Regions from separate parts of the Homo sapiens genome. Here regions 2 and 3 are each linked to region 1. The links come from fine-mapping of genetic effects on gene expression. A gene starts in region 1. Each other region holds a variant in brackets. All regions are shown on one strand. Distances are from middle to middle.

The links. PIP is the estimated chance that this variant, and not a neighbour inherited with it, causes the effect.
Region 2: its variant is the best candidate, but not a certain one, in a credible set for the expression of UEVLD in blood mononuclear cells (TOPMed, PIP 0.62).
Region 3: its variant is the best candidate, but not a certain one, in a credible set for the expression of UEVLD in monocytes after Pam3CSK4 (Quach 2016, PIP 0.55).

What each region holds. Positions count from the first base shown.
Region 1 is chr11:18,583,810-18,592,030 of GRCh38, forward strand. It overlaps UEVLD (UEV and lactate/malate dehyrogenase domains), which reads right to left and starts at 4,925. Exons shown (of 12, transcript NM_001040697.4): 1 at 4,804-4,925. The coding sequence starts at 4,845. LOC112268073 (a long non-coding RNA gene) reads right to left here. Exons shown (of 4, transcript XR_002957242.2): 3 at 6,727-7,032; 4 at 6,284-6,471. RefSeq lists enhancers at 3,973-4,082, 4,483-4,632, 4,673-4,732, 4,793-5,087, 4,993-5,042.
Region 2 is chr11:18,654,026-18,662,299 of GRCh38, forward strand. No RefSeq gene overlaps it. Among named protein-coding and RNA genes, the nearest start is that of SPTY2D1, 24 kb to the left of the region's middle. The variant A/G (reference allele first, on the strand shown) is at 4,535.
Region 3 is chr11:18,459,795-18,467,794 of GRCh38, forward strand. LDHAL6A (lactate dehydrogenase A like 6A) reads left to right here. Exons shown (of 7, transcript NM_144972.5): 2 at 4,167-4,284; 3 at 5,843-6,016. Among named protein-coding and RNA genes, the nearest start is that of LDHAL6A, 7.9 kb to the left of the region's middle. The variant CTTTA/C (reference allele first, on the strand shown) is at 4,350.

The sequences.
Region 1 (8,221 bases):
CACCACCACACCCGGGTAATTTTGTATTTTTGGTAGAGACGAGGTTTCTCCATGTTGGTCAGGCTGGTCTTGAACTCCTGACCTCAGGTGATCCACCCACCTCAGCCTCCCAAAGTGTTGAGATTACAGGTGTGAGCCACCGCAGTATTACCATTTTATGAGTGAGCAAATCTAGGTTAAGTTGCCTCTCCGAGGTAACTCAGCTGGAGGAGCAGAAAATAGGAATTAGGGAACTAGGTAATTTCTCTAAATGTAACACTTAATATAAACGAAGGAATATACTTATTGGCTGGGCATGGTGGCTCACATCTGTAATCCCAGACTTTTGGACAGTCAAGGACAAAGGATCACTTGAGGCCAGTAGTTTTGAGACCAGCCTGGGCAACACAACAAGACACTGTCTCTACAAAAATAAAAACAAAAATTGGCCAGATGTGGTGATGTTGCCTGTGGTCCTAGCTACCTCCAGAGGCTGAGGCAGGAGGATCACTTGAGCCCAAGAGTTTGAGGCTGCAGTAAGCTATGATGGTACCACTGCACTCCAGCCTGGGAGACGGAGCAAGGCTCTGTCTCTTTAAAAAAAAGAAAAAGCACACGCTTTTTGCAGAATAATAAGTACTGGTGAATTGACCCACCCACTTATGATACAGAACTGTCTGACAAAGCTTTCTGCCATAATGGAAATAATCTACACATACATTGTCCAATATGATAGCCACAAACCACATGTGGCTACTAACAATTGAAATGTGATTAGTGATTTTATTCCTGTTTTTAAAAAATGCTTATTTATATCTTTTGCCCAATTATCTATTTACTTTTTTGTTTGCTTTGTTTTTTTGAGACGGAGTCTTGCTCTGTTGCCCAGGCTGGAGTGCAGTGGCGTGATCTCAGCTCACCACAACCTCCACCTCCCGGGTTCAAGCGATTCTCCTGTCTCAGCCTCCTGAGTAGCTGGGACTACAGGCCCATTGCAGGATGCCCGGCTAATTTTTGTATTTTTAGTAGAGACAGGGTTTCACTATGTTGGCCAGGCTGGTCTTGAATTCCTGACCTCGTGATCTGCATGCCTCAGCCTCCTAATGTGCTGGGATTACAGGTGTGTGCCACCATGCCTGGCCTATTTATTGGTTCTAATATTGATTTGTAGGCATGCTTTATATATTTTAGATACCAATACTTTGTCAGTTATGTGTGCTACAGATAGCTTCTCTAAGTTTGTATCTTGCCTCTTCACTTTCTTTAATTTTCTTTTTAAAAAAATTGAGATAGGGTCTTGCCATATTGTTCAGGCTTGTCTCAAACTCCTGGACTCAACAGATCTGCCTGTCTTGGCCTCCCAAAGTGCTGAGATTACAGGTGTGAGCCACCACACCTGGCTGCCTCTTCACTTTCTTCATGGTGTCTTCTGTTCTTAATTTTAATACAGTTGAATTTGTCTCTTATTTGTGTATTATTTTAAAACGGTTTGCATATTCTGAGCCTATAACATTTATCTTTTTAGGTTTTAAAGTTGTCTTTTACATTTAGGTCTTTAATCCACTGGAAATTTTTATGTTTGGCGTAAGGCAGGGATACAAGGTACAATTTCATTTTTCTCATGTGGATATTCACTTGTCTCTCCATTCTCCTTTCGCCATTTATCTGCAATGTCTTCTGTTTTATATTGCATTTCCAAACATGTGTGACTACGATTCTAAGCCCTTTAGTCTGTTTCACTGGTTAGTCTATTCCACACCAATGCCACACTAAATTTTACTTGCCGTAGTACTGATATTTGGTAGAGCAGGTCCTCAAATCTATCATCTATTCTTTCCTTCTTTATTATTATTATTTTTTTTTTTTTGAGACAGAGTATTGCTCTGTGGCTCAGGCTGGGGTGCAGTGGCGCATTCTCAGCTCACTGCAACCTCTGTCTCCTGGGTTCAAGCGATTCTCCTGCCTCAGCCTCCCAAGTAGCTGGGGTTACAGGTGCCCACCACCATGCCCAGTTTTTACATTTTTTAGGAGAGACGAGGTTTCACCATGTTGGCCAGGCTGCTCTTGAACTCCTGACCTCAAGTGATCCGCCCACCTCGGCCTCCCGAAGTGCTGGGATTAGAGGCGTAAGCCACCACACCCAGCCCTCATATCTATTTTTTTTCCATAATAATGTCAAGGTTATCCTTGGCCTTCTGCTCTTCTGAATGAATTTTAGAATCAGTTTGAAGTTTCCAAGAAATGCATTGACCCTATAGATAAATTTGGAGAGAACTGACAATCTTCACATCTATGAAACTGGGATATCTATTTAATTAGATTTTTTACTTTCTCCATAGTTGCTTAATTTTTTAATGTACTGATCACTTCTCCATCGATTTTTTCTGCAACAAAATTATTTCTAAGTTTTAAAAAATTTTAAATTCATTTTTTTTTATTTTTTTGAGATGGGGTCTCCCTCTGTTGCCCAGGCTGGAGTGCAGTGGCACGATCTTGGGCCACTGTAACCTCCACCTCCCAGGTTCAAGTGATTCTCCTGCTTCAGCCTCCCGAGTAGATGGGATTACAGGAGCGGGCCACCACGCCTGGCTTATTTTTTTGTATTTTTAGTAGAGATGGGGTTTCACCATGTTGGACAGGCCGATCTCGAACTCCTGGCCGCAGGTGATCTACCCGCCTCGGTCTCCCAAAGTGCTGGAATTACAGACGTGAGCTACCGTGCCTGGCCTTACATTTATTTCTACTTTTTAGAGACACGGTCTCGTTCTGTCTCCCAGGCTGGCAAGCAGTGGCACAATCATAGCTCTCTGCATACTCAAACACCAGGGCTCAAGCTATTCTCCTGCCTCAGCCTCTCAAGTAGCGGGGACTACAGGCATGAGTAACTGTGCCTAGACTAAAATTATTTCTAGATATTAAACAATATTATTTGCAGACTGCAGTGAATGGTCAGGAAACTTCATATATTTGCTGCACTGACTTGTTTCTGATTGGTTTCCTTAATTTATACAGCCAACAAATACTTATTAATAATAAGCTACCCCAGCCTGGCCAATATGACGAAACCTCGTCGCTACTAAAAATACAAAAAAAATTAGCCGGGCTTGGTGGTGGGCGCCTGTAGTCCCAGCTACTCAGGATGCTAAGGCAGGAGAATCGCTTGAACCCAGGAGGCGGAGATGGCAGTGAGCAGAGATCGCGCCACTGCACTTCAACCTGGGTGACAGAGCGAGACTCCGTCTCAAAACAAACAGTAATAATAATAATAAGCTACCTATGTGCCAGACTCTATGCTATGCACTGATGGGGAAAAAAAAATCCTCTACTATTCTACTCTCACCCTTGAAAAAACCATTGTCTCTCTTCTTTTCCTTCATTCCAGTGCCACCAAAAATATGCTCTATGTTTGAATCTTAACTTGAACAATTCTTCCCATCGGACAATCCATCATCCTCTGCACATTAAAACTTGAATGGTTCTTTTAATTTCACATGCTCTGAAGAGGAGACAGAAAGGGTAGCATTATGATACTTCTCTTCCTACAAGATCTGCACCTGTCGCAGTAGATAAATTCATTCAAGTCACTTACATAAACAATTTCAATCTTAGGACTTCAAAACCTCCCACGGGTATGTAAACTGCCCCAACAAAGAAAGAGGCAAGTATAACAAAAATGGCATAAACTATGGTTTCTGCATTAGGAAGTCTTAAGAAGCATTAAGAATTATTTAAGGCCGGGTGCGGTGGTTCATACCTGTAATTCCACCACTTTGGGAGGCTCAGGCGAGTGGATCACTTGAGGTCAAGAGTTCGAGACCAGACTGGCCAACATGGTGAAAACCCATCTCTACTAAAATACAAAAATTAGCCAGGCATGGTGGCACGCGCCTGTAGTCCCAGCTACTTGGGAGGCTGAGGCACGAGAATCGGCTTGAACCCGGGAGGTGGAGGTTGCAGTGAGCCTAGATCGCACCACTGCACTCCAGCCTGGGGGACAGAGCAAGACTCTGTCAAAAAAAAAAACACAAAAAACAAAAAACCACCTTAACTAGGAAACTGGTGAAAACTAGTCTTCTTAACTAGAAAATTGGCGGGGATTCCCTCAGATTGTACACCGGAAACTCAGGCTAGTCAGGTCTCAGAAATATAGGTCAGATTTCTAGGTCGGCCCGCCTACTCCCCAGCCTTCCAACATTAAGATCTCTCCAGGGCCTTCAAGCTCTGTCTTCATCTCTAAATCTACTCAGGTCTTTCATTCACTGCACAGTTACTTAGTACCTATGGTGTTGTCAAACATAGTGGCTAGAGGAAGGGAATACAAAAGCACAATGTCTGCAGTCAAAGGGGCTCACAGCAAGATTACGGTTTGTAAATACATAATTACTCCACAATGTGATAATCGATATCTTTCAAAACAGAAGGGTTGATTCAATCTTACAGGGAGTGACTGAGTTGGGTCTTACAAAGGATGAGCTTTGCAATTCAAGAAAAAAGAAAAAAAAGGCAGACCATTTCAGCAGAGAGAAAGAGAGAAAGGCGTGGTTAGGCGTGTGCTGGGAGCTGTTTGAGGTCAGTGAAGCTGGGGGTATGAGGAGGGCTCGCACCAGGTGGAGGTTGGGAAACCTCAGAGTTGCGGGAGAAATCAGAATCCAGGTCCCCTCAGCCTCCCTGGGGCCGCGCCCCATAGCCGGTTTCAGACCAGCCGCCCCGGCTCCAAGCCCCACTACAAGCCGGGAAACGCAAAACGGAGGCAACCTGGCCAAAGGCAGAGGCACCCCCCGCAAGACCCTGAGGACCCAAACTGGCCCAGCGGACTGCCCGCACCTTGCCAAGCAGCCGTCTCAGGCCCTCGCAGTCGAACTCCATCTCCAGGCCGGTCCCGAGCTAGGTCCCAGGACTCCAGCCCCCGGACCTTCTTCCGGACTTGCTGCAGGACGGAAGCCGCTGAGGACCAAACTTCCCGGCGGTCCAAGGCCCCGCCCCTTCCCAGACTGGAAATTCCACCCGCATTCAACGCCCCGGGCTCAGCCGCGGCTGCGCCCGGAATCCGGGGCCTCTCCTTCGTGACCCCGGAGTGGGCAAGTGACGAGGGCACGGCCAGAAACGCATTGGCGTCAAGGAAACCACGACCCATCTTCCTGGAAGGAAACTTGGGGACACTTATGAAGAGAAGACTAGGAAGGACCGGAGTAGAAGCACTAAAGGAGGTAGAGGCAACACGCGGTGTTCTTGAAGAGTTTCCAGACAGATGTATTAAATTCCACAGTGTATCAGGAAAGAGCAAGACCGAAAATTGCAGTTGAATTTAGGAAGGAGGCGGTAATGGAACTTCAGAAGCAAAATTTCAGGGAGTAGAAAGGAAAAACAAAGTCAGGAGGAGCCTTGCCGGAGAAGCGGAGATAGGACAGCCCCAGCATGAGGGTGGCTTAGCACGGGGAGAGTGGTTGCTTTTTTTATTTTTTTTAGGGGTGCCATAACAATGTTGGTGGTCAAAGAGAGGAGAAATCCAGGTGAACAAATAGTTGGAAAACAAGAGAGGAGGGAGATGGGTGGATAAGGTCATCTGGAGAAGGTGGGTGAAGAAGAGATGCAGGATACAGTAATTTTCTGGCGTTGTTTGATCTCCTTGGCCCATGGCTGACTTACCTGCCCTGTATCCCTGGCCTGAGCCACTGAAGCGAAAAGTCCCAGGAGCTGGATATTGTAATTGTCAAGAGGTTGGACATATAGGAGAGAGATTGTATTTATAGGAAGATCTGAAGGGAGTGCTGCCCTGACTCAGGAGAAGAAGCTGAAAAGCTGGAAGGAACATTCATTCAGAAAGTTTTTGTTGAGCATCTACTACTTGCCAGCTATTTTTCCAGGTCTCAGGATACAGCCGTGAACAAAATACACTCAGATAGCTGATGTCTTAAGGGTGTCATTCCTTTATTAGCAGAGAGAGAGCAAAACAATAAATGTAATAAGTAAATTATTCAGCATGTCAGAAGGTTGATTACGTGTTGTGGAGAATAAATTCTGAAAAGGGTAGGGAGATTGGGGTAGGTCTCACTGAGGGGTGAGGGAGTAAGTGTTACGAATCCGAGTGCAGACAAAGCAGTAGCCTAAGGCATGTGCCCAGGGAGGCTCAACACAGCAAGGAGGCCAGTGTGGCTGGAGTAGAATGAAGTAAGATGGGAGTGGAGACAAGGAGGCTAAGTCAGGGAAATAAGACGGGGGAACAAGTGGTTTAGAGAAGTGAGTCTTCTAGTGTGAGCCCCAGATCTGCAGCCTCAGGTGCTGGGAGTTGTTAGAAATGCAGATGCTAAGACCTCAACCCCAGCTTTATTCAATCACAGGCTCTGGGGTTGGGGACCAGCAATTCTCTTTTAACAATTCTTCCAGATGATTCTGATGGGTGATGAAGTCCAAGAACCACTGTGGGACTTTGTAGACAATTGTAAGGACTCTGGCCTGTCCCTGCCCTCCAGCCAGAGACCATCAGGAACACACCTGTGCTTAAACAAGTTGAGTTCATTATTAATAGTTCTTGCAGTGAGGAAGCAGGTGTTGTGGAGGACCATTGGGACAGCTTGGTGAGGGTGAGAGAACCTATTATAGAATTTGGGCGATTTGCGGGAGGGCTCAAGAAAGCCAGGCTTCACCCTGGATTGGGTGCTGTCAGAAAGCAGGGACATTTCTGTGACTAGGTATCTGAATAAGTATTGTCTATAAGATGGACAGACTAGAGTGAGGATAAAGCTATACCTAGTAAAGAAGCAGCAGTCACTCATAATAGCAGAGAAGGACGTTTGGTATTTCATGGCTTGCACAGTGACCTTGCTCTCTTGTCTCTGCTTAGACACAATTTTGAAATGGCCTTGTTGTTGTGTCCCTTTTTTATAGTCTGACTGACCTTGTCTCATGTTGGTGTTCTGTGAGATTATGTCCCACAGAAGAATAACTGGGCCAAGCTGTGAGCATCAGGCCAGCTTCTAACAACCCTGAAGTCTAGCTGTGTCAGACCAGCTCTCAGATGTCAGGGCCTGCCTCTTCCTTTCTCAGGCTTTTAATCTGGGAGAAAGAGAAAGCCACTGGGAGGTTTCGAACAGAACAGTGACATGATCTGACTGAGCTTTAAAAAAATATTAATAACTCTGCAGTGTTGTGAAGAGGCAGTAGTGTCAGGCAAGAGTAGGCCAGAAGACAAGGTAGGAGGAAGATTACAGAGAAAAGCTGATAGAAGGGCTGTTAAGTGCATCTCAGCCAGATCTAACCAACCTTAAAACAGTAGAACTGCCAGGGGCTCCAAATTCTAATAGATCCTGCCAGAAATCCGTGGTATAAGGAAAAGATACCAGTTAGCAGCAAGGCCAGAGCAAGATTCTTCCATCTTTTATGAAAGAGCCTTTTATGAAAGAGGCCTTCCAACCAAACCAATTCTCTTCTGGTCTAGTCACTATGCACACTTTATGCCAGAGAGAGTGTGAGTGAGTGAGTGTGTGTGTGTGTATGTAGCATTTCCTTTGTGGAAGGTATACTGCTAAGAGTTTTATGTGCTTTATCTCCGTTCATCTTCATAAGACCCTATGACCTGGATAGAATTATTACCTCAATTTTACTGATAAGAAAATTGAGGTGTATTGTTATATTACCTATTTTACTTGTTTCTGAGGTTCTGTTGAATAAGAGATGTATTAATGATAGCTTTTGGGGGGAGAAGAAAACTACAAAATTAAACATACATACTGATTTTAACACACCTATTTGAAAAGAATGTAAATGTGAAATAGAGGATATGTATATAATTGTCTCCATTTTACAGATAGGGAAACCAAAGACTAAGGTTAAATTACTGCAGAAGATGATGTCAAAGACTGTCTTCCTAAACTACATGTTATAGTGCCTCTCACTGTGGGTGAAATTGTGATGACACTTTGTGATTAATAATAGTCTAGGAAATCAGCCAGGTGTGGTGGCTCATGCCTGTAATCCCAGCACTTTGGGATGCCCAGGCAGGCGTATCATCTGAGGTCAGGAGTTCGAGACCAGCCTGGCTAACATGGCGAAACCTCATCTCTGCTAAAAATACAAAAATTAGCTGGATGTGGCGGCAGGTGCCTTTCATCCCAGCTCTTTGGGAGGCTGAGGGAGGGAGAATTGCTTGAAGTTGGGAGGCAGAGGTTACAGTGAGCCGAGATCTTGCCACTGTATTCAGCCTGGGCAACAGAGTGAGATTCCATCAAAAAAAAAAAGGTCTACA
Region 2 (8,274 bases), 70 kb after region 1:
AGGCTGGAGTGCAATGGCGCGATCTCTGCTCACTGCAACCTCCACCTACCGGGTTCAAGCGATTCTCCTGCCTCGGCCTCCCAAGTAGCCAGGACTACAGGTGCCCACCACCATGCTTGGCTAATTTTTGTATTTTTAGTAGAGATGGGGTTTCGCCATATCAGGCTGGTCTCAAACTCCTGACTTTGTGATCCACCCACTTCGGCCTCCCAAAGTGCTGGGATTACAGGCGTGAGCTACCACACCCGGCTCCTCCCTTATTTTTAATGAGAGCAAACATTTATTGAGTGTTCAATATGGGTAAACCTTAGAAGGTTCTAAGGACTTTACATTTTAGTTCATTTGATACTTGCAATTTATAGCCATGCGTGGTGGCTCATGCCTGTAATCCCAGCACTTTAGGAGGCTGAGGTGGGTGGATCACCTGAGGTCAGGAGTTCAAGACCAGTCTGGCCAATGTGGCGAGACCCCATCTCTACTAAAAATACAAAAATTAGCTGGGTGTGGTGCAAGACTCCTGTAATCCCACTACTCAGGAGGCTGAGGCAGGAGAATCACTTGAACCCGGGAGGTGGAGGTTGCAGTGAGCTGAGATCACGCCATTGCACTCCAGCCTGGGCGACAAGAGTGAGACTCCATCTCAAAAACAGAAAAACAAACAAAAAAAACCTTGCAATTTTTGAGGCTAGAATTATTTCTCTCTTGATTAAGAAAATCTTAATCTTTCTTGATTAAGAAAATCAAGGTACAGGGATGTTAAGCAACTGGCTCAAAGTCACACAGCCGAAGAGCAAGGATTTGGATCTAGGCAGAGTCTGACTCCAAACCATGCAGCATTAACTACTTTTTATTTTTTTTTAGATGGAGTCTCGCTCTGTCACCCAAGCTGGAGTGCAGTGGCACGATCTTGGCTCACTGTGAGCTCTGCCTCCGGGGTTCACGCCATTCTCCTGCCTCAACCTCCCAAGTAGCTGGGACTACAGGCACCTGCCACCATGCCTGGCTAATTTTTTATATTTGTACTAGAGATGGGGTTTCACCGTGTTAGCCAGGATGGTCTCGATCTCCTGACCTCGTGATCTGCCCGCCTCGGCCTCCCAAAAGGCTGGGATTAGTTGTGAGCCACTGCGCCAGGCAACTGCTAGTTAACTACTATGTTTCAACTTGTATTAACCATGCTTTCTTTTCTTTTTTTTCCCTTTTTTCTTTCTTTTCTTTTTTTTTTTTTTTTGAGGCAGAGTCTTGCTCTGTCACCCAGGCTTGAGTGCAGTGGTGTATAGTCTTAGTTCACTGTAGCCTCAAACTCTCCCAGCTCAGGTGATCCTACCACCTCAGCTTCCCAAGTAGCTGGGACTGCAGGCATGCACCACCATGCCTGGCTAATTTTTGTATTTTTTTTGTAGAGATGGGGTTTCACCATGTTGCCCAGGCTGGTCTTGAACTCCTGAGCTCAAGTGACCCACCTGCCTTGGCCTTCCAAAGTGCTGGGATTACAGATATGAGCCACCACATCCAGCCCCCCTCCCTTTTTTAAAAGAAGAGAAAGCAAAGAAAAAAGGCTTTTAAACCTCAAAGATCCTTATTCTGCTGCCTTCCTAGAATCCGTAGACAGGAATTCAACTATGAACCTGAATTGACTTTAGGGGAATATCTCTCCAGCCTAGAAAGAGAAGCACCTGGAATTTTAAAATAAGAATCATAGACTTTTGGGTTTAAGGATTTTGAGAAAGCCGGGAACGGTAGCTCATGCCTGTAATCCCAGCACTTTGGGCAGATCGCCTGAGGTTAAGAGTTTGAGACCAGCCTGGCCAACATGGTGAAACCCCATCTTCACTAAAAATCCAAAAAAAAAAAGGACTGTGAGAAGCTCTGACATGTGATCACTTGGCTCTGTGCTCAAACAACCCCAAGGATGAAAGTGTCTTTTCTTTTTCTTCACCTAAACCTCCCGATTGCTGGGACTACAGGCATACGCCACCATGCCAGACTAATTTTTTTAATTTTTTTTTTTTGAGATGGAGACTTGCTCTGTCGCCCAGCCTGGAGTGTAGTGGCATGATCTCTGTTCACCACAACCTCTGCCTCCTGAGTTCAAGTGATTCTCCTGCCTCAGCCTCCCGAGTAGCTGGGATGACATGCATGCACCACCATGCCTGGCTAATTTTTTGTATTTTAGTAGAGATGGGGTATCACCATGTTGGACAGGCTGGTCTTGAACTCCTAACCTCGTGATCCTCCCGCCTCGGCCTCCCAAAGTGCTGGGATTACAGGTGTAAACCACCTCACCTGGCCCCCCCACCACCTTTTTTTTTTTTTTTTTTTTTGAGACAGAGTCTCCCTCTGTTGCCCAGGCTGGAGTGCAGTGGTGGGATCTTGGCTCACTGCAACCTCTACCTCCTGGGTTCAAGCTATTCCCCTGCCTCAACCTCCCAAGTAGCTGGGACTACAGGCATCTGCCATCATGCCCGGCCAATTTTTTTTTTTTTTTTTTTTGAGACAGAGTCTTGCTCTGTTGCCCAGGCTGGAGTGCAGTGGCATGATCTCAGCTCACTGCAAGTTCCGCCTCCTGGGTTCACACCATTCTCCTGCCTCAGCCTCCTGAGTAGCTGGGACTACAGGTGCCCGCTACCATGCCTGACTATTTTTTCTATTTTTAGTAGAGACAGGGTTTCACCGTGTTAGCCAGGATGGTCTCGATCTCTTGACCTCGTGATCCACCTGCCTCGGCCTCCCAAAGTGCTGGAGATTACAGGCATGAGCCACCACACCCAGACATGCCTGGCCATTTTTTTTATTTTTAGTAGAGACCGAGTTTCACCATGTTGGCCAGGCTGGTCTTGAACTCCTGACCTCAGGTGATCTGCCAGCTGCTCGGCCTCCCAAAGTACTGGGATTATGGCATGAGACACTGTGCCCAGCCATTTATTTTATTTTATTTTATTTTTTTTGAGACACAGTCTTACTCTGTTGCCCAGGCTGGAGTGCAGTGGCACGATCTTGGCTCACTGCAACCTCTGCCTCCCAGGTTCATGCGATTCTCCTGCCTCAGCCTCCCAAGTAGTTGGGACTATAGGTGCACCCCACTATGCCCGGCTAATTTTTGTAATTTTAGTAGAGGTGGGGTTTCACCATATTCATCAGGCTGGTCTCGAACTGCTGACCTTAGGTGATGTACCTGCCTTGGCCTCTGAAAATGCTGGGATTTACAGGTGTGAGCCATCGTGCCTGGTGTATTTTTTTTATTTTTAGTAGAGATGGGATCTTGCTATGTTGCCCAAACCAATCTCAAACTCCTGGGCTCAAGAGATCCTCCTGCCTCAGCCTCCTGAAGTGCTGGGATTACAGATGTGAGACTACACCTGGCCAAAAGTTTCCTTTTCTCACCACTGAAAAATTCTTACTTCTCTTGGGTCAAAAACCTCCCTCTGCCTCCTTCCATCCTTTCTTTGCTCCAGGAGCTGTGCTCTGAAGCCACCTGCTCTGGCTGTCCCCTCTTCTGTCTTCTGTACTTCCTATACCCTTCCCCATCACCATATAAAGACATCTCCCTGTCTCACTTAGGTCTTCTTGTTACTGGAACGGGTCCCAATCCAGACCCCAAGAGAGGGTTCTTGGACCATGTGCAAGAAAGAATTCAGGGTGAGTCCATAGAGTAAAGTGAAAACAAGTTTATTAAGAAAGTAAAGGAATAAAAGAATGGCTCCTCCTTTGGCAGAACAGTGGCATGGGCTGCTCAGCTGAGTACACTTATAGTTACTTCTTGATTGTATGCTAAACGAGGGATGAATTATTCATGTATTTTCCGGGAAAGGGGCAGGGATTTCCGGGAACCAAGGGTTCCTCCTCTCTTTAGACTATATAGGGTAACTTCCGGATGTTGCCATGGCATTTGTAAACTGTCATGGGTCTGGTGAGAGTGTCTTTTAGCATGCTAATGTATTACAATTTGTGTATAATTAGCAGTGAGAACAACCAGAGGTCACTTTCATCATCATCTTGGTTTTGGCGGGTGTTGGCTGGCTTCTTTATGGCATCCTGTTTTATCAGCAAGGTTTTTGTGACCTGTATCTTGTGCCAACCTCCTATCTCCTCCTGTGACTAAGCATACCTAACACCTGGGAATGCAGCCTAGCCCCTATTCAAGATGGAGTTGCTCTGGTTCAAAATATGTCTCTGACATTCTCATCACTGAAACTACCTTTGTACAAATTATAACTGAGAAAATTATGACAGTGAAAGAGATCTGACCTAACTGACTCTTTCTTGCTTCTAACCTCCAAGCTGTCCATGTTCATTTCTAGGCGTAGGCTGAACTAACTTTGTGAGGAACTTAGTTTATAGGTTAACTTTAAGACAAAGACAATAACAGCCCTTTCCCAAAATAAATCCTCTTCCTGCCAGGTGATTAGACTGCCTTTGCAGGACTAACAAATTAGCCACAAGATTAGAAATTATAGCTTTGGAGTCCAATAGCTGGAGGCTGCAAGATTCTAAACCTCCCCAAATTGCTCCTGGGGGTATTATCTTAGGTTAC[A/G]GTAAAACCTAAGATCAGTGCTTGAGATAGTCTGCAGATCCTGTACTCGATGGATCAGCTGACACCACCCAGATCAATAAAATGGCTCATCAGGTCTTGTGGCCCCCACCCAGGAACTGACTTACTGCAAGAGGACAGCTTCAGCTCTCTATGATTTCATCTCCAACCTGACCAATTAGCATTCGCCACTTCCCGAGCCTCTACCCACCAAATTATTCTTAAAAATTCAGATTGATTGGTTCCAAGATGGCCAAATAGGAACAGCTCCAGTCTACAGCTCCCAGCATGAGCAACGCAGAAGACAGGTGATTTCTGCATTTCCAACTGAGGTACTGGGTTCATCTCACTGGGGCTTGTCAGACAGTGGGTGCAAGACAGTGGGTGCAGCCCACAGACTGTGAGCCGAAGCAGGGCGAGGTGATGCCTCACCCAGGAAGCGCAAGGGGTTGGGGAATTCCCTTTCCTAGCCAAGGGAAGCCATGACAGATGGCACCTGGAAAATCCGGTCACTCCCACCCTAATACCATGTTTTTCCAATGGTCTTAGCAAACGGCACACCAGGAGATTATATCCCGCGCATGGCTCAGAGGGTCCCACGCCCACAGAGCCTTGCTCACTGCTAGCACAGCAGTCTGAGATCGAACTGCAAGGCGGCAGCGAGGCTCGGGGAGGGGCACCCGCCACTGCTGAGGCTTGAGTAGGTAAACGAAGCCACCGGGAAGCTCGAACTGGGTGGAGCCCACTGCAGCTCAAGGAGGCCTGCCTGCCTCTTTAGACTCCACCTCTGGGGGCAGAGCATAGCTGAACAAAAGGCAGCAGAAACTTCTGCAGGCTTAAATGTCCCTGTCTGACAGCTTTGAAGAGAGTAGTGGTTCTCCCAGCACAGAGTTTGAGATCTGAGAATGGACAGACTGCCTCCTCAAGTGGGTAGCCTAACTGGGAGGCACCTCCCAGTAGGGGCCGACTGACACCTCATACGGCCAGGTGCCCCTCTAAGACGAAGCTTCCAGAGGAAGGATCAGGCAGAAATATTTGCAGTTCTGCAGCCTCTGCTGGTGATACCCAGGCAAACAGGGTCTGCTGTGGACCTCCAGCAAACTCCAACAGACCTGCAGCTGAGGGACCTGACTGTTAGAAGGAAAACTAACAAACAGAAAGGACATTCACACCAAAATCCCATCTGTACGTCACCATCATCAAAAACCAAAGGTAGATAAAACCGCAAAGATGGGGAGAAACCAGAGCAGAAAAGCTGAAAATTCTAAACATCAGAATGCCTCTTCTCCTCCAAAGGAATGCAGCTCCTCGCCAGGAATGGAACAAAGCTGGACAGAGAATGACTTTGACAAGTTGAGAGAAGAAGGCTTCAGAAGATCGGTAATAATAAACTTCTCTGAGCTAAAAGAGGATGTTCCAACCCATTGCAAAGAAACTAAAAACCTTGAAAAAAGATTGGATGAATGGCTAACTAGAATAAACAGCATAGAGAAGACCTTAAATGACCTGATGGAGCTGAAAACCATGGCACGAGAACTATCTGATGCATGCACAAGCTTTAGTAGCCGATTCGATCAAATGGAAGAAGGGGTATCAGTGATTGAAAATCAAATGAATGAAATGAAGCGAGAAGAGAAGTTTAGAGAAAAAAGAGTAAAAAGAAATGAACAAAGCCACCAAGAAATATGGGACTATGTGAAAAGACCAAATCTACATCTGATTGGTGTACCTGAAAGTGACAGGGAGAATGGAACCAAGTTGGAAAACACTCCTCAGGATATTATCCAGGAGAACTTCCCCAACCTAGCAAGGCAGGCCAACATTCAAATTCAGAAATACAGAGAACGCCACAAAGACACTCCTTGAGAAGAGCAACTCCAAGACACATAATTGTCAGATTCACCAAAGTTGAAATGCAGGAAAAAATGTTAAGGGCAGCCAGAGAGAAAGGTCGGGTTACCCACAAAGGGAAGCCCATCAGACTAACAGCTGATCTCTCAGCAGAAACTCTACAAGCCAGAAGAGAGTGGGGGCCACTATTCAACATTCTTAAAGAAAAGAATTTTCAACCCAGAATTTCATACCCAGCCAAAAGAAGCTTCATAAGTGAAGGAGAGATAAAATCCTTCACAGACAAGCAAATGCTGAGAGATTTTGTCATCACCAGGCCTGCCTTACAAGAGCTCCTGAAGGAAGCACTAAACATGGAAAGGAACAACTGGTACCAGCCACTGCAAAAACATGCCAAATTGTAAAGACCATCGAGGCTAGGAAGAAACTGCATCAACTAACCAGCAAAATACCCAGCTGACATCATAATGACAGGATCAAATTCACACATAACAATATTAACCTTAAATGTAAATGGGCTAAATGCTCCAATTAAAAGATATAGACTGGCAAATTGGATAAAGAGTCAAGATCCATCAGTGTGCTGTATTCAGGAGACCCATCTCACGTGCAGAGACACACATAGGCTCAAAATAAAGGGATGGAGGAAGATCTACCAAGCAAATGGAAAACAAAAAAAAGCAGGGGTTGCAATCCTAGTCTCTGATAAAACAGACTTTAAACCAACAAAGATCAGAAGAGACAAAGAAGGCCATTACATAATGGTAAAGGGATCAATTCAACAAGAAGAGCTAACTACCCTAAATATATATGCACCCAATACAGGAGCACCCAGATTCATAAAGCAAGTCCTTAGAGACCTACAAAGAGACTTAGACTCCCACACAATAATAATGGGAGACTTTAACACCCCACTGTCAACATTAGACAGATCCACGAGACAGAAAGTTAACAAGGATATCCAGGAATTGAACTCAGCTCTGTACCAAGCGGACCTAATAGACATCTACAGAACTCTCCACCCCAAATCAACAGAATATACATTCTTCTTAGCACCACGTTGCACTTATTCCAAAATTGACCACATAGTTGGAAGTAAAGCACTCCTCAGCAAATGTAAAAGAACAGAAATCATAACAAACTGTCTCTCAGACCACACTGCAATCAAATTAGAACTCAGGATTAAGAAACTCACTCAAAAGTGCTCAATTACATGGAAACTGAACAACCTGCTCCTGAATGACTACTGGGTACTTAACGAAATGAAGGCAGAAATAAAGATGTTCTTTGAAACCAAGGAGAACAAAGACACAACATACCAGAATCTCTGGGACACATTTAAAGCAGTGTGTAGAGGGAAATTTATAGCACTAAATGCCCACAAGAGAAAGCAGGAAAGATCTAAAATTGACACCCTAACTTCACAATTAAAAGAACTAGAGAAGCAAGAGCAAACACATTCAAAAGCTAGCAGAAGGCGAGAAATAACTAAGATCAGAGCAGAACTGAAGGAGATAGAGACACAAAAAACCCTTCAAAAAAATCAATGAATCCAGGAGCTGGTTTTTTGAAAAGATCAACAAAATTGATAGACTGCTAGCAAGACTAATAAAGAAGAAAAGAGAGAAGAATCAATTAGACACATAAAAAATGATAAAGGGGATATCACCACTGATGCCACAGAGATAAAAACTACCATCAGAGAATACTATAAACACCTCTACACAAATAAACTAGAAAATCTAGAAGAAATGGATAAATTTCTGGACATATACACCCTCCCAAGACTAAACGAGGAAGAAGTTGAATCCCTGAATAGGCCAATAACAGGCTCTGAAATTGAGGCAATAATTAAGAGCCCACCCACCAAAAAAAGTCCAGGATCAGGCAGA
Region 3 (8,000 bases), 120 kb before region 1:
GGCTATGACAGTTTCTTTAGATTTTTCTTGTTTTTGATGACTGAGCATTCTGAGGAGTACTAGTCAAGTATTTTGTAGAACACCTTTCTCTTGGAATTTGGTGGGGTTTTTTTTGATGGTGAGACCGAGGTTTTGGGTTTTGGGGAGGAAGACATAGGAATAAAGTGCCACTTTTCATCACATCATATCCCGGCTACATACTGTCATGATTTATCAGTGTTGATGTTGACCTCAGTTACCTGGCTGCTTGTAATGCAGCTTAGACTTCTAGGTTGATCAGTTGTACAGTCTAGTTTAAAATGTAAAGCGCTTGGCTTTGAATTTCCAGTAATTCGAATAGAGTAAAAAGATCCAGGCTGGATCCAGGCAGTGGCTCATGCCTGTAATCCTGCACTTTGGGAGACCAAGGCAGTAGTATCACTTGAGCCTAGGAGTTTGAGACCAGCCTAGGCAACAAAGCAAGACCCTGTCTCTAAAATATAAATAAATGAATAAAAATTAAAAATTGGCTAGGTGGCCGGGCACGGTGGCTCACACCTGTAATCCCAGCACTTTGGGAGGCCAAGGCGGGTGGATCACCTGAGGTCAGGAGTTTGAGACCAGCCTGGCTAACATGGTGAAACCCCATCTCTACTAAAAATATAAAAAACTAGCTGGGCACGGTGGCATGCATCTGTAATCCCAGCTACTTGGGAGGCTAAGGCAGGAGAATCGCTTGAACCCGGGAGGCAGAGGTTGCAGTCAGCCAAGATCGCACCATTGCACTCCACCCTGGGCAACAAGAGCAGAAACTCCGTCTCAAAAAAAAAAAAAAAAAATGCCAGGTGCGGTGGTACATGCTAGTAGTACTAGCTACTTGGGAGGCTGAGGCAGGAAGCTTGCCTGAGACCAAGAGATTAATGCTGCAGTGAGCCATGAATGTGCCACTGTACTCCAGCTTGGGTGACAAAGTGAGACCCTGTCTCAAAAAAGAAAAAAGGTAAAAAGCACTAACAATGTGAATTGGATATGTGCTTAAATTATGGATGCTTGGTTATTTCTTTCCTTTTCTTTTTTTTCTGAGAGGGAGTCTCACTCTGTTGCACAGGCTGCAGTGCAATGGTCAATCTGATAGCTCACAGCAACCTCCGCCTCCCGGGTTCAAGTGATTCTCCTGCCTCAGCCTCCCAAGTAGCTGGGATTACAGGCATGTGCCCCCATGCCCAGCTAATTTTTGTATTTTTAGTAGAGACAGGATTTCACGATGTTGGCCAGGCTGGTCTGGAACTCCTGACCCCAGGTGATCCGCCCGCCTTGGCCTCCCAAAGTGCTGGGATTACATGCGTGAGCCACCGCGCCCGGCCTTGGTCATTTACTTGTTTTTTTTTTGAGACAGAATCTCGCTCTGTTGCCCAGGCTGGAGTGCAGTGGCGCGATCATGGCTCACTTCAACCTCTGCCTCCTGGGTTCAAGCGATTCATCTGCCTCAGCTTCCCGAGTAGCTGGGACTACAGGTGCATGCCAACACGCCCGGCTAATTTTTGTATTTTTAGTAGAGACAGGGTTTCACCATATTGGCCAGGTTGGTCTCGAACTCCTGAGCTCATGATCCGCCCACCTTGGCCTCCCAAAGTGCTGGGATTATAGGCGTGAGCCACCATGTCCCACCTTGATCATTTACTTCTAAGCACTAACACAAAGGCGTTATTTTTCCTCCAAGGAAAAATTTATTATGTAATAAAGATAAAAAGAATATGTAGTTAAAAGGTAATACATTTACAAGATTTGAAAGTAAGGCTGGGTGCGGTGGCTCAAGCCTGTAATCCCAGTACTTTGGGAGGCCATGGCAGGCAAATCATGAGGTTAGGAGTTTGAGACCAGCCTGGCCAACATGGTGAAACCCCGTCTCTACTAAAAACACACAAAAAATTAGCCGGGCATGGTGGCAGGCGCCTGTAATCCCAGCTACTCAGGAGGCTGAGGCAGGAAAATCGCTTGAACCCGGGAAGGTGTGGGTTGCAGTGAGCCGAGATAGTGCCACTGCACTCCAGCCTGGGCAACGAGCAAGATTCCGTCTCAAAAAAAAGAAAAAAAAAAAAAAACTAGGCTGGGCATGGGCTCACGCTTGTAACTTTGGTAGGCTGAGGCAGGCGGATCACTTGAGTCCTGGACTTTGAGACCAGCCTGGGCAACATGGTGAAACCCCATGTCTACAAAAAATACAAAAATTAGCCAGATGTGGTGGCAGGCTCCTGTGATGTGGTGGTAGGCGCCTGTTGTCCCAGCTACCCAGAAGGCTGAGGTGGGAGGATCATCTGAGCCTGAGAAAGTTGAGGCTGCAATGAGTCATGATCATGCTACTGTACTCCTACCTGGGGGACAGAGCAAGCCCCTGTCTCAGAAACAAAAAGTAAAAGTAAAATTCAGAAAGATACATACAAGGCCGGGCGCGGATTAAGGCTTGTGCCTGTAATCCCATCACTTTGAGAGACCGGGGCAGGTGGATCACTTGAAGTCAGGAGTTTGAGACCAGCCTGGCCAACATGGTGAAACCCTGTCTCTACTAAAAATACAAAAAAATTGGCCGGGTGCGGTGTCTCATGCCTGTAATCCCAGCACTTTGGGAGGCAGAGGCGGGCGGATCACTAGGTCAGGAGATCAAGACCATCCTGGCTAACACGGTGAAACCCCGTCTCTACTAAAAATACAAAAAATTAGCCAGGTGTGGTGGCGGGCGCCTGTAGTCCCAGCTACTCGGGAGGCTGAGGCAGGAGAATGGCGTGAACCTGGGAGGCGGAGCTTGCAGTGAGCCGAGATCACGCCACTGCACTCCAGCCTGGGCAACAGAGCAAGACTCTGTCTCAAAAAACAAACAAACAAACAAAAAAAAAAACAAAAAAAACCCAAAAATTAGCTGGGCATGGTGGTGCATGCCTGTAATCCCAGCTACTCAGGAAGCTGAGGCAGGAGAATCACTAGAACCCAGGAAGCGGAGGTGGCAGTGAGCCGAGATTGCACCACTGCACTCCAGCCTGGGGAACAGAGCAAGAGACTCCATCTCAAAAAAAAACAAAAACAAAAACAAAAAAACATACATGGAGAAGTCATACTGGTTTCCATCCAATCTTTCCTTAGCATCCACTTTAGGCAATTATTTGAATCAGTTTCTTGTATTTCTAGTGTTTTTTTTTTTTCAAATAGAAGTATATTTTCTCTCCTTTCTTACATATAAAGTAGCATCATAGAAATTATAGTATGAATTGATTTCTGTAGGTAATAACTGTCTGATTATAGAACTAAAATATTTTTGAGTTGGAAGGAGCCCTATATTTTAATCCATTTGCTGTGGTTTGAATGTTTGTCCCCTCTGGAACTCGTTTAAATTTAATCCTCAATGTGGCAGTATTGAGAGGTGGGGCCTTTAAGAGTTGACTGGGTCATGAGGGCTCTGCCATGGATTAATCTATGGATGAATGGGTTATCAGGGGAGTGGGAATGGTAGCTTTATAAGAAGAGGAAGACAGACCTGAATTTAGCAATCGCAGCCTCCTTGCCATGTGATGCCCTGTGCTGCCTTGGGACTCTGCAGAGTCTCCTCCAGCAAGAAAGCCCTCACCATATGGCGGCCCCCTGACCTTGGACTTCTCAGCCTCCATAACTGTAAGAAATAAATTCCTTTTCTTTATAAGGTACTCAGTTTCATGTATTCTGTTATAAGGAACAGAAAATGGACTAAGATACCATTTATTCAAAAAACTTTTACTGAGCTCCTCTGTGCCAGGTGGATGATAAGTAAGCACCAGATGGCTGGGGATGAATGACTTCCTAGTCTCAAGAAGCTCAAGGTCTGGTGAGAAATTCCTTCAGCAGAAGCACTACTTTATCACTGTGCAGCCTCAGCTGAAATTGAAAATCGGGGTGTTCACTACTTTCAGAGATTGTTCTATTTACTAAGCAGTTTCTGTTTTTGTTTTCCTCATGATGAGCTGAAATGCTCCTCTTTGTAATTTGTATTTTTTCTGGTTTAGACTTTTATATCATGACAAAATGATGAGATCATTTATTATGTTTCCTTTGATTTTGATAATTCACAAGCTAGACATAGATCACCAATATAAGAATTTTCTTTCATTCTCCAGTTAATCAAGAGATACACTCACACCCATTGGACTAACAATGTTTTTCAGGGTTTGAGTGATGAACTTGTCCTTGTGGATGTTGATGAAGGCAAACTGAAGGGTGAGACAATGGATCTTCAACATGGCAGCCCTTTTATGAAAATGCCAAATATTGTCTCCAGCAAAGGTTAATGTCATAGTTAAATACTATAAATATTCTAATATACATGAACAAGTATCTAAGAAAATCAT[CTTTA/C]TTTCTTTTGACCTCCCCAGTTTTTATAGATAAGGCTGGTTGCTCCCTACTCTGTACTCTCATAACGTGTTCAGATTCCTTGGGTTGTACTTTGCAAGGTTTCCCACGGCACCAGACTGAGTTCCTTGTGAGCAGCAGTAACAGCAGTTATCATGACAGCTACAATGAACTGACTGCCTATTGTGTGTGAGACATTGACCCAAGCACTTTATATAATTTAATCCTGAGCACAACTCTATTTTAGAGATGATGTACCTCTGAACTAAGGTTAATTAAAAGTGATAGGACCAGGCATGGTGGCTCATGCCTGTAATCCCAGAACTTTGGGAGGCCAAGGCAGGTGGATCACCTGAGGTTGGGAGTTCGAGACCAGCCTGACTAACATACAGAAACCCTGTCTCTATTAAAAACATAAAAATTAGCCGGGCGTGGTGGTGCATGCCTGTAACCCCAGCTACTCAGGAGGCTGAGGCAGGAGAATCGCTTGAACCTGGGAGGTGGAGGTTGTGGTGAGCCAAGATCGTGCCATTGCATTCTAGCCTGGGCAACAAGAGTGAAACTCTGTCTCAAAAAAAAAAAAAAAAGTGATGGAGTAGGGATTTGAACTCAGTTCTGTTTGATTCCAAAGCCTAAGCTCTTCACTACTGTACTTTATTCACTTGGCACCTGGGAGATAATTATTTGAACAAACGAATGAACCAACAATTTGCTATTCAAAGGTCTGTTCACACCACATCTATCTCTAAATATTCTTGCCAGAGTAATCCATATTTTGACCTCTTCATCTAAATAATACAAAAGGTATTTTAGGAGGTGAGGTGTTTTTTTTGTTTTTTTTTGTTTTGTTTTGTTTTGGTTTGTTTTTGAGACAGTGTCTTGCTATGTTGGTGCAGGCTGGACTTGGACTTCTGGGCTCGTGTGTGATCCTCTTGGTCTCAGCCTCCAAGTAACTGGGACTATAGGAGTGCACTACTGTACCCAATTTAGGAGGTTTTTGTTTTTGGAAACGGAGTCTCGCTCTGTCACCCAGGTTGGAGTGTCGTGGTGTGATCTTGGCTCACTGCCTCCATGTTCAAGTGATTCTCCTGCCTCAGTCTCCCTTGTAGCTGGGACTACAGGCATCCGCCACTGTGCCTGGCTAATTTTTGTATTTTTAGTAGAGATGGGGTTTTGCCATGTTGGCCAGTCTGGTCCTGAACTCCTAACCTCATTTGATGGACCCACCTCGACCTCCCAAAGTGCTGGGATTACAGGGGTGAGCCACTGCACATGACTTACGTTTTTTTTTTTTTTTTTATTATTAAAAAAAATGTACAAGGGAAACTTAGTGCTAATTTCCTGAAATTAAAAAGTAGTCTAGGCATACTAGAAGATTTAAGGGAACCCACTCTTTGGTAAACATAGTGTGGTGATTGAAGTGAACAGGAAGTATACTTAAATGCCAGATGTTTTCTTTCATAATCGATTGTTTATTCTAATCTTTCCTCAGATTACCTGGTCACTGCAAACTCCAATCTAGTGATTATCACAGCAGGTGCACGCCAGAAAAAAGGAGAAACACGCCTTGATTTAGTCCAGCGAAATGTATCCATCTTTAAATTAATGATTCCCAATATTACCCAGTACAGTCCTCACTGCAAACTGCTTATTGTTACTAATCCAGGTCAGCTTTGTTGTTTTAAATTTTCAACTTTTAGATTCGGGGGTACACTGTGTAGGTTCATTACATGAGTATACTGTGTGATGCTGAGGTTTGGGGTAGGATTGATCCTGCCACCCAGGTACTGAGCAAAGTACCTAATAGTTTTTCAGCCCTTGCTGCTCTCACTCCCTCCCTCTCTAGTAGTCTCCAGTGTCATTTGTTCCCATCTTTATGTCCATGTGCACCCACATGTTTAGCTCCCACTTATAGTGAGAACATGTATTTGGTTTTCTGTTCCTGCATTAATTAGCTTGGAATAATGATCTCCAGCTGCATCCATGTTGCTGCAAAGGACATGATTTTGTTTTTTATGGCTGCATAGGACAGCTTTATTTTCACTGTTCAGTGAAGGAGTTTTTGGGGGTGGGTTTAGTAACTTTGAGGAGAAAAAGAATTTAATGAATATTAAATCGTAAACCACCAGTATAATTCCAGAATCTCTGTTTTGTTAGTGTAATATGTACTTTGCACAGTGGTAATCAGTGTATATACTATAATGACTTTAAAAAATACTAGTGTGAGGCCAGATGCAGTGGCTGAAGCCTGTAATCCCAGCACTTTGGGAGCCCAAGGTGGGTGAAGTGCTTGAATCCAGGAGTTTGAGAATGGCCTGGGCAACATGACAGAACTCCATCTCTACAAAAAAATACAAAAATTATCAGGGCATGGTGGAGCATTCCTGTAGTCCCAGCTACTCAGGAGGCTGAGGCGGGAGGATTGCTTCAGCCAGGGAGGTCAAGGCTGCAGTGAGCCATGATTGCGCCACTGCACTCCAGCCTGGGTCACAGTGAGACCCTGTCTCAAAAAAAAAAAAAAAAAAAAGTAGTGTGTATGGGAAGATAATATGCTTAATCATATGAGTTCAAGGTTTATATTCTAAAGGCTGAGGTTTGTTTTCCAAATTACTGTTTGAGAAGTGAAAGTAGGGCTATAGTTTACTGCCTGACTCTCCAAAATTGTACTAGACTCCTCACTGGTGCATTTACAAGGTGGACAAACTGAAAATAGACTTCGGAGATAAAATGTGCAGGACTGCTGATAGATTATGTCTAGTGAGAGAAAGGGAGGAATAAAAAATAACTTCGAGAGTTTTTCCTTTGAGTAACTGAAGGGATGGTAGTTCCATTTAACTGGGTTGGTAAATTTACTGATCGGGTGGGAGTCAGTGAGGGAAGGAGGCAGGGATGTTACATATAGAGGGGAAAAATCAAGATACCTGAAATGATACTCAAGAGGAAATGTCAAACAGCTAGAGATTATGAGTCTGGAGCTTAGTAGTTTAGGGATATTCAAATTACTGTATTCTAAAATTATTTGGAGTAGTTTTTCTCTGTGCAGACCAACAGTGAGTGCATGATTAAGTTTATTCATTTTAATTTCGATGCTGAAGAACTATTTAACTTTTGTTTCACAGTTTTATAAAATATTCACATGGCTCCAACATCAATTCTAGAGAACAGGAATTATTCAAAGTGGTCCAGCTTCTGTCCCTGTGCCCTTTCCCCTATAGCCTCCATCCTTTTATAGGTAACCATTTACACTTTTTATGGTTTACAGCTTTTTGTTACTACATACGTTTTTCTCCATCTTCTTTCATTTTTAACTTAATATATCATGAAGCTCAACTCCATAGTAGTATTTATAAATATGTTGATTACTGTAGCTTTGTGGTAAGTTTTGAAATCAGGATGTATTAAGTCTTCTGACTATTCTTTAAGATTATTTTGGGTCAGGCGTGGTGGCTCACACCTGGAATCCCAGCACTTTGGGAGCTGAGCCAGGTGGATCACCTGAGGTGAGGAGTTCAAGACCAGCCTGGCCAACATGGCAAAATCCCATCTTTACTAAAAATACAAAAATTAGCTGGGCATGGTGGTGCACACCTGTAATCCTAGCTACTTGGGAGGCTGAGGCAAGAGAATCGCTTGAACCCAGGAGGCAGAGG